Homo sapiens: one gene and its partner. The protein of the gene in region 1 purifies or fractionates together with the protein of each later gene. This does not show direct contact. Each region holds a gene or a part of one and is shown on either strand. Other genes may lie near its edges.

What was found. The genes of interacting proteins can lie anywhere in the genome.
Region 2: the proteins of CMTM8 (region 1) and ABCD1 purify together in Homo sapiens (affinity purification with mass spectrometry; one large-scale study listed by BioGRID and IntAct). This does not show direct contact.

What each region holds. Positions count from the first base shown.
Region 1 is NC_000003.12:32,240,467-32,246,014, forward strand, and holds part of CMTM8 (CKLF-like MARVEL transmembrane domain-containing protein 8), read left to right. Parts: intron 1-5,548.
Region 2 is NC_000023.11:153,733,855-153,738,355, forward strand, and holds part of ABCD1 (ATP-binding cassette sub-family D member 1), read left to right. Parts: intron 1-997; exon of another isoform or gene 998-2,257; coding exon 2,258-2,400; exon of another isoform or gene 2,401-2,490; coding exon 2,491-2,659; exon of another isoform or gene 2,660-2,757; coding exon of another isoform or gene 2,758-3,057; exon of another isoform or gene 3,058-3,302; coding exon 3,303-3,397; exon of another isoform or gene 3,398-4,501. UniProt on the Homo sapiens protein: ATP-dependent transporter of the ATP-binding cassette (ABC) family involved in the transport of very long chain fatty acid (VLCFA)-CoA from the cytosol to the peroxisome lumen.

The DNA.
Region 1 (5,548 bases):
AACAAAAGCTAAAATGACAGAGATGGGCCTTCTACCTTGGGGTGGATTTGGGCCAGGCATGAAGTATAACGCCTTTGGGTTTTTTTCTGATTTATTATCGATATGCTCTGTGTACTGCGCTTTTTCAGGAAATACAAAAGTGAAAGAAATGTAAGTGGCCCACAATCCCATTACTAGAAATAATCACTGTTGACATGTTAGCATGTATCCTTTTAGATTTCATTAAGCGTTTTGAAAAAGATGGGAAAACATGTAAGCAAAATCACCCTTATTACTACTATAGTTTTTATTTTTGACAGAGCTAATTATGCACCTTTTTTGTTTGTTTTGTTTTGTTTTGAGACAGGGTTTTGCTCTGTCTCCCAGGCTGAGGTGCGGTGGCACCATCATGGTTCACTGCCGCCTTGACCTCTTGGGCTCAAGCGATCTTCCCATCTCAGCCTCCCAAGTAGCTGAGACCACAGGCATGCACCAACACACTTGGATAATTTTTAATTTTTTTCTAGGGACGGGGTCTCTCTGTGTTGCCCAGGCTGCTCTGAAACTCCTAGGCTCAAGCAATCCTCCTGCCTTGGCCTCCTAAGGTGCTGGGATTGTAGGCATGAACCACTGTGCCCCACCTTATGCACATATTTTAAAGATTCGGTCCTACAGGCAGAAATATAAGTTTCTCCCAGTGTCTTCATCTCTTTGAGCTCTAAACAACGTGTTTATAATGCTGTTTATTGGTGTTCCCTCACCCACCCAGTCATAGACATTATCCATTGCCTTTCTACTCTGAAAGATGAGGCTTTAGCTGGGATGCCCTCTTCCCTGCCTCCAATTATACATACCCTCTTCCTGTCTCCCAATATAGGTCCAAACACTTCTGATGGTTCAACTTAGGAATTTTCAGCTTTACAGATGTTGTAAAAGCAGTATGCATTCAGTAGAAATCATACTTCGAATTTTGAATTTTGGTCTTTTCCCAGGCTAATGATATTCGGTAGATATTTTTTCATGATGCTGGTCAGCTCTCAGCCACCCATGCCATCACCAGCGCAAACCACCCATCCTCTCCAGCATGCTGTGCTGCTGGGTGATTCTGCCAGCTGTAGGCTAACCTAAGTGTTCTGAGCACGTTTAAGATAGGCTAGGCTTAGCTATGATGTTTGGTAGGCTAGGGGTATTAAATGCATTTTTGACTTCGGATACTTTCCACTTAGGATGGGTTTATCAGGATGTAACCTCATTGTTAAGTCAAGGGGCATCTGTATAGTCTTCAGGTGATTTGGGTTAGATCAGCAGCCAGTGTTGACCTATGACACTGTAAATACCACTTACAACTGACCCAGTGCGTAGACTATGAATGCTTTTCCTTTCCTGCCCAATTTCTTGTTTGCCCTGGTGTTAGTAATTCTCTTTTCTCATTTCATAATTTCTCCAGATATTTAGTCACTAATTTAACCCTAGTTGTTTAAGTCTCCTATCAAGAAGCTGAGAGACATCAGGTATTCTGTCAGAATCGTCTTCATGACTGGCCTCTCTGGGAGCCTCTGGCCTGGTGGCCTGCACACAGCTGGCCGACTGGGCTCTCCTGCACCATCACTCTGAAGATTCTCTTCCTTTCTTTCCTGGGTTGGATCCTCTGCTTCCCATGTCCAGTGTCCTCTGTCTTGCTTTGCTCCCACTGGGGGGACACACAGCCTCTTGTAGTTTTCTAAGAAAGCATGCATGTGGAAATGGAAATTTGCACCTTTCAGAATAGCTTGATTCTATACACAATTCCTAGTTCAACTAGGTAGAGAGTGTTAGACTGAAAATGTTTTTCTTCAGAATTTAAAATGTATTCTTTTATTGTCCTTTAGCTATTCTGATTTAATTTTGTTTTGTTTTGTTTGAGACAGTGTCTTACTCTGTCATCAGGCTGGAGTGTAGTGGTATGATCACAGTGCAACCTACCCCTCCTGGGCTCAAGTGATCCTCCCACCTCAGCCTCCCAAGCCAGCTGTGACCACAGGCATGGGCCACCATGCCTGGTGGATGATTTTTTTGTATTTTTTGTAGAGACAGGGTTTCGCCATGTTGCTCAGGCTGGTCTCGAACTCCTGAACTCAAGTGATCTGCCCACCTCGGCCTCCCAAAGTTCTGGGATTATAGGCATGGGCCACTGCACCTGGCTGTAAAAATTTTTATTTCAATTATTTATCTCCCTCTACCCCCTGACTTCTGGAAATGTGTTGAACCTTCTTTTTCCCAGAGATCTAAAATATCACAATGATGTGCCTTCATATGAGTGTGTTTTCTCCCAGTGTACTGGGCACCTGGTGTGTTCTCTCAAATAAGGAAAATTCACGTAAGTTTCAGGAGACTCCTCCCCATTTTTACAAAGGTATTTTAGTAAACAAAATACAATTTTTTTTTTTTTTTGAGACAGAGTCTGGTTCAGTTGCCCAGGCTGGAGTGCAGTGGGTCTCATAATGTCACTCAGGCTGGAATTGCAGTAGTGCAATCCCAGCTCACTGCAACCTCTGCCTCCTGGGTTCAGGCAATTCTGGTGCCTTAGCCTCCCAAGTAGCTGGGATTATAGGCGTGCACCACCAAGCCTACCTAATTTTTGTATTTTTCATAGAGACAGGGTTTCGCCATGTTGGCTGGGCTGGTCTCGAATTCCTGACCTCAAGTGATCCACCTGTCTCAGCCTCCCAAAGTGCTGGGATTACAGGTGTGAGCCACCTCACCTAACCAAAATAAAATGATAGCTCTCTTAAAAGTTTATAAAAATAAACATTTATACATTGTTGGTCAGGCGTGGTGGTTCACACCTGCAGTCCCAGCACTTTGGGAGGCTGAGGCCAGCAGATTGCCTGAGCCCAGGAGTTTGAGACCAGCCCAGCCAACATGGCGAAAACCCATCTCTACTGAAAATACAAAAATTAGCCCAGCATGGTGCTGGGCATCTGTAGTCTCAGCTACTCGGGAGGCTGAGGCAGAAGGATCATTTGACCCCAGGAGGTCGAGGTTGCAGTGAGCTGGGATTGCGCCACTGCATTCCAACCTGGGTAACATTGTGAGACCCTGTCTCAAAAAAAAAAAAAAAAAAAATCACATTCTTTTAAAAGTATAGGTTGGGAGTGTATCCTCGGACACATTTTTGGATAATTGTCTTCTCTTCTCAGCTGCAGTCCACTCAGACTGACTTTTACATTGTGAATTCAGGAAGGCAGTACAGCTCACTGTGGTTGAATGCATTTGACCTGTGTTCAGTTTCTGGTTCTGCTCTTCACCATGTACAGTGTGAGCCATTCTTTCAATTCGAAAGTATCTCATAGAGTTGTCAGGACCCAAACAACACAGCTGTGCATGAAATGCTTAGCAAAATACCCTGGATTACTCTTCAGTTATCTCCTTCTCTCATTGATGCCTCTCTTCAGCTTCCAGTTTTGCTGTTTTGCTTCCAGCCTTTTCCTTTGGTATATTTTAACTCCAGCAAATGCCAGACAGAGAATTAATGGTTTCTCTGCCAAGATATTATAGCAGCAGGGATGAGTATTCAAGCATCTTCCAGTTCATGGTAGACCAACTTTGAATTCACTCCTGATCAACATAGCTGCCCCCTGCGCCGCCCTGACAAGTACGTGAGGAGAGGGAGCTGTGGAAGGTCAGGTCCAGGGAGCTAGAAGGTTTGATAGTTTCTGGCTGCAGAACCACCTGCACTTGCCCTGCACACCAACCAAGATCTTACCTAAGGAGTTTTTTTGAGACAGAGTCTCACTGTGTCACCCAGGCTGGAGAGTGCAGTGGCACAATCATAGCTCACTGCAACCTGGAACTCCTGGGCTCGAACAGTCCTCCCGCCACAGTCTCCTGAGGAACTGGGATTACAGACATGCACTGCCAATTCTCAGCTAATTTTTTGTTTAGAAACGGGGGTCTCACTGTGTTGCCTAGGCTAGCCTTGAGCTCCTGGCCTCAAGCAGTTCTCCTCCTTAGGCCTCCAAAAACACTGGGATTGCAGGCATGAGCCGTTGCGGCCAGAAGATTTTTTGTTTAATTCGAATTTTCTCTTTCCATTTTCTCAGTTCTTTCTAAAACTCCTTTTATACTTTTTTCTTTGCATATATTTTCTCATGATTTTTTTCTAACTGATCTGTGATATGCTGTTTGCTTTTACTATGCCGTGAACATTTTTCAGGGTCTTGGACCTTTTGAATTATTACCGTTTTCTGTCGTAAAGAAGTACCATACCTGGTTTCCCCAGTTTTCTATTTTAAAACTAATGTGTTTCTAGGGTTTACTAGCATAACCAGTGCTGTAGCAATCTTTTTCTTTGTCTGTCTTTCCACATTTGTCCAGTGCTTTTCTTGAGGAAAAGTTCCTTGAGGTAGAATTGTTGGGCTAAAGGGTATATAAATCTAAGGGTTTTGTGACATAGTCTGAAGTTATCTTCCCCAAAGTTCTACTGGTTGAAACTGTCATCAGTAGTATGAGCCTTTTAAACTAAAAATACTTTAAAAAAATTCCAAATGTTAATGATCACCTTAAATAACGTACTGTGTTTTATTGATTATAATGGGTAGTTTTTGTTCATGTTTTAATATCTGAATCAGGATACTGCTTATAATTGATGGTTTCTTGGATGTCATGAAATATGGACCCATTGATTCTTTATCTGGGGATACAGGAGTGTGTCTGTTTCAAACCTTTGCAATCCCATTCCTGAGACTAAGATATACCTACCCCCAGAAAAATGCTACTTTCTGCCTTGTGAAAACAAAATACTGAGACAAAGAATTACTAAGAACCTGACTTCCTGCCTGAACCTGGGGAAATGAAATTAGGCAGAGAACAAAGCAGTGTTTTTTCAAATCACTTGTCAAAATCGCTTGCTCTGGTTTTGGGGGTGAGTGGTAGTAGCTGTACCTATTAAAACACTCAAGGCTGTGCCAATGTAACATCATGTGGAAACCAAATCATGGTAGTTTCCTTCCTTTTAAAGTTTTATAACAAGCTAGAAGCAATCCAGTACTTGACCTGTGAATTGTAGGATGCTGTGATCTCATAACTATTACAAGTACTTGAAGAATGAAAGTGATTTGTAAGAATCTTAGTAAATTGTGCCCTTCCTGTTATTGATGACTTCGAAATGAATTATAGTATCCATGTAATAATGTTAGGTCACCTTTTATTTATTTACTGTCTTGAGCAAACTTAGTTGGGGAAGGATAAATAGGGTTTACTGAGAGTTGGAATTTTAATTATTCTGTTGCCCTGTTGAGTTCCTTTAAAAAATAGTGAACATAGTTTCCATTTCATAAAAGCAATACCCGACATTTGTAGAAAAAACTTTTATTTATTATTATTATTACTTTGAGATAGAGTCTTGTTCTGTCCCCCAGGCTGGAGTGCAGTGGCGTGATCTTAGCTCACTGCAACCTTAGCTCACTGCAACCTCTGACTCTCAGGTTCAAGCAATGCTCATGCCTCAGCCTCCTGAGTAACTGGGTTTACAGGTATGCACACCACTGTGCCTGGCCAATTTTTGTATTTTTAGTAGAGACAGGGTTTC
Region 2 (4,501 bases), on another chromosome or scaffold:
AATCTAGTTCCCTGGTTTCCCGGGCCAGGCCCCTTTCCACCCTGCATGGCCCTGAGCGGATACTGCGTTCCGTGTCTTCCCCCAGCCCCCAGCCAATGATCCCTGAGGCTTCCCCCTCAGGATCACACCCACCCCTGGATACAGTCCTCGGGTCCTTCACAGGACATTCCCACCACTTCAGCCACACCCCAGCACCCTCAGAGGCGGCCTTCGCCCTTGCTCCCCACCTCTGCTCCTGTGGGGAATCTAAGGATCAAGAAACTGAGAGTCAAGGCCATTGATGAGGGTCAGGGGTGCTGCCACGGGGCCTAGAGTGTGACAGAAAAGCAAATTAAGACAGGAGCAGCTCCTGGGAGAAGCAGACACCAAACAATACGGCTGCTGGCCCAGAGGTCAAAAACCATGGCCTAGAGGGGGCGGTCAGGAAGTGGGACATTAGGCCGGGCGTGGTGGCCCATGCCTGCAATCCCAGCATCTTTGGAGGCCAAGGCAAGTGGATCACCTGAGTTCAGGAGTTTGAGACCAGCCTGGCCAACATGGTGAGACTTCGTCTCTACTAAAAATACAAAAAAAATTCGCTGGGCTTGGTGGCGGGTGCCTGTAATCCCAGCTACTCGGGAGGCTGAGGCACAAGAATCCCTTGAACCTGGGGAGGCAGAGGTTGCAGTGAGCCAAGATCACACCACTGCACTCCAGCCTGGGCAACAGAGCAAGACTCCATCTCAAAAAAAAGAAAAGAAAAAAAAAAGAAAGTTGGCGTTTCAAAGCCAAACAGCTCTGGGCGTTGGATGACAAAGTTCAGATGTGCCCCAGGAGGGGCGACATCAGTGGTGCAGGACAGAGGGCCGGTGGAAGGAGCTGGCTGTACGTAGAAACAAAACCAGATGCCTACTGGTGCATTTAAAAATCAACGTTATTGAGACGTAATTAACATACTATACAATTCTTCCTTTTCCATGTACAGTTTAAATTCATTCACAGAGTTGTGCAGCCATCATCACTAACTCCAGAATGTTTTATTTTTATTTTATCCCCCAAAGAAACCCCAGACCCATGAACAGTCACTCCTCATTCCCTCTCTCCAGCCCCTGGCACCCACTCATCTGCTTCCTGTCTCTGTGGATTTGCCTATCTGGACATGTCCTAGAAATGGAATCATGTGCTCTGTGGCATTTTGTGACTAGCTTCCTTCACTGAGCATCATGGTTTCAAGATTCGTCCATGTCATAAGATGAATCAGTCCTTCATTCCTTTTCATGGCTGAATAATATTCCATTGTGTGCATAGACCACAATTTCTTTATCCATTCATCCCTTGATGGACATTTTGGGTTTCTTCATGTTTTGGCTATTGTGAATAACACTGCTGTGAACATCCATGGACAAGTCTCTATGTGTGCAGATATTTTCGTTTCTCCTGGGTGTGTAGCTAGGAGTAGAATTGCCAGGTCACATGGTAACTGGACGTTTCACTTTTTGAGGAGCTGCGAGACTGTTCTCCACAGTGGCTGCCCCATTTTACCTTCCCGCCAGCAGTGTTGGAGGGTTCCACCTTTTCATCGTGGCTAGCACTGGTTATCATCTCCTTTGTATTCTAGCCACCTAGTGGGTGTGAGGCAGTATCTCTTGGTGGTTTTGATTTGCATTTCCCTGATGACTAATGACGCTGAGCCTCTTTTGATGTGTTGAGTGGCCATTTGTATGTCTTCTTTGGAGAAATGTCTGTTCACGTCCTTCGCCCATGTGTGATCGGGTTATCTCTGTCGCTGAGTTGTAAAAGCTCTTTGTATATTCTGGATACTGCACCCTCATCAGATGTGTGGTTCACCAGTCCAGAGTTTTCTCCCAGTCTGTAGGTTGTCTTTTTCACTGTCTCGATATTGTCCTTTGGTGCACAAAAGTGTTGAGTTGAATGAGGTTCAGTTGATCTGTTTTTCTCTTGTTGCTCATGCTTTTGGTGTCCTAGTGAAGGAACTATTGCCATATCCAAGGTCGTGAAGTTTTATCCCATTTTCTTCTGAGAGTTTCATACTTTGGGCCACACTACACATCAGCCTGTGATGTGCTCTGGGTTGGTTTGTCTGTATGGTGTGAGGGGTCCCTCTCCTGCACATAGAGAGAAAGAGAGAGAGAGCTGGTTGCCCCGGCACCATTTGCAGAAGAGCCTCGCCTTTCTCTCCAGCGGCTCATTTTTGACTTTCCGCTGTCTCTGCCCTGCCCCTCCCCGCCCCGCCACCCACCCCTCTGGGGCTTTGCAGATGCAGAGGCCGTGAAGAAGGCAGCCTTGGAAAAGAAGGAGGAGGAGCTGGTGAGCGAGCGCACAGAAGCCTTCACTATTGCCCGCAACCTCCTGACAGCGGCTGCAGATGCCATTGAGCGGATCATGTCGTCGTACAAGGAGGTACCCCTGGCCCAGCCCCACCCTTGCCATCCTTGCCATGCTTCTCTCCCTGCAACTGGCAGGGGCTGAGCCAGGGTCACCCTCCCTCAGGTGACGGAGCTGGCTGGCTACACAGCCCGGGTGCACGAGATGTTCCAGGTATTTGAAGATGTTCAGCGCTGTCACTTCAAGAGGCCCAGGGAGCTAGAGGACGCTCAGGCGGGGTCTGGGACCATAGGCCGGTCTGGTGTCCGTGTGGAGGGCCCCCTGAAGATCCGAGGTAAGGCTGTCCCCTCCCTATGAGTGACCCCGCCCCTGCTGCTGCTGCAGGTGCTGACCTGCTGCCCCAGCTCCTCCTATTCCCGCTCCCTCACTCAGGGACCTCCATGTGCTTCTGGCCCATCCCAGTCCACCCAGGACGGGAGGGCTGCCGGGCAGGGTCTTTGAGGACTTCGGCCTGGTCGAGCTGGGCCCCTGGAGGGTTTCCTGCAGAGAGGTGCTGGTCCGCCCGCCTTCCTTCCCAGACAGTAGCTGCCGGCCACCGTACTGACTCGCCCTTTGAGGGCCTCAGCCTGGATTATTCATTCAAAACAAGGGGGATGTGGTCCCCTCACCCATGCAGGACAGCAAGAGAAAGTTCCAGTCAGTGTGCCAGCTGCTGGCTGCCACGGGAGGCAGGTGCTGCAGAAGGGAGTGGCGGCCCAGGGCACTGTATTAGACACTGGGGGAAGAGTTCAGCTTGTTGGAAGACCTGGCTGTGTTCCCTAGGGACCCTGGACCACAGGCTGCTGGTCAGGAACCAGCTGGCATGCTGCCAGGGATGGGAATGAGGGCGTGCAGCCAGGGGCACGCAGACTCCCCAGAATGCAGAGGGGTCGCCACCACTCCCTCTCCACCCCAGCCCCGCTGTGCTGTCTCTGCAGGCCAGGTGGTGGATGTGGAACAGGGGATCATCTGCGAGAACATCCCCATCGTCACGCCCTCAGGAGAGGTGGTGGTGGCCAGCCTCAACATCAGGGTAGGTCCAGCGGGGAGGGCGCCAGCCACGCACATATGCAAGCCTCAGCCCTTGGCTTCCCGCCTGTCTGTGCTGGCAACAGCCATTGTCCCTAGATGTACGTGGCAGGTGGGCCAAGGTCAAGGTGAGAGACCAACGTGTCTCTGACTGTTCATCCTGGGGCAACAGAGGCAGGGCTCATAAAAGAGACTAGTGATACCAGGATTGACCAAGGTTCACCCCGGCGTTCCTGGCCCTATCATCTGATGCCAACTCCCCACACTCCTAAGAAAGCCAAGACCCGGGTGGGGGGGCTCTGGTTCAAACCTTGCCGCTCGACCTCCCTCGGAAGGCCACAGCAAGGAATCCACAGATCACCTGTGTCCCCAGCCAGGGGTTTGGACAGGGCTGGGGAGTAATGGAGTGAGGGGGAGACTGGGGTGGAGGGACAGGTAGAGAAGTGACAAGGAATCACTCATTCATTCACTCATTTAACCAATGTGCCCTGAACTCTGAGCCGGGCACCAGAAACCCGAGGTAAATCAGGAGACCTGCACTCAGGGAGTCTTCACTGTGGAGGGGCACTAAAGTGTTACAAAGGGTCTCCAGGTAGACAGCTGTTCAAGGGACAGTGGGGGTCACAAGAAGAGTGGTCAGAGTCCCTGGGGGTGGTGGGGGTGGGATGAAGCCTTGCCCAGGAGTTGCTGTGAGCGAGTGGGCAGGCAGCTGAGGGTAGAGGAGTGAGGGGCCGTGGGCCTGAGGGGCAGGTCACGCAGGAGGAAGCAGAGAGGAGGGGCATGCCAGGGAGGAGGGGGCCGGCACAGGTGGTTACCCCTCACCGCTCGCAGCGGCCCCTCCTAGGATGTCGGGGGAGCTGATCACCAGTGAGTCCAAGGAAGGTGGTTTCCAGGCTGGCCCCGGGCAGCACAAGCAGGCAGGGGCAGCGGGCAAGCTCATGGGGCCCCTGCGCGCAGGGCCACATATGCTCAGGGAGCCGGGTATGCGAGATGGGGCAAGGCCCAGGCCCCACCCTTCAGGAGGGGACAGTCAGGTGGCTTCATTAGCATCCTGTGGCTGCGGTCACAAAGCGTTACAAACTTTGAGTGGCTTTCCCAGCAGAGATGG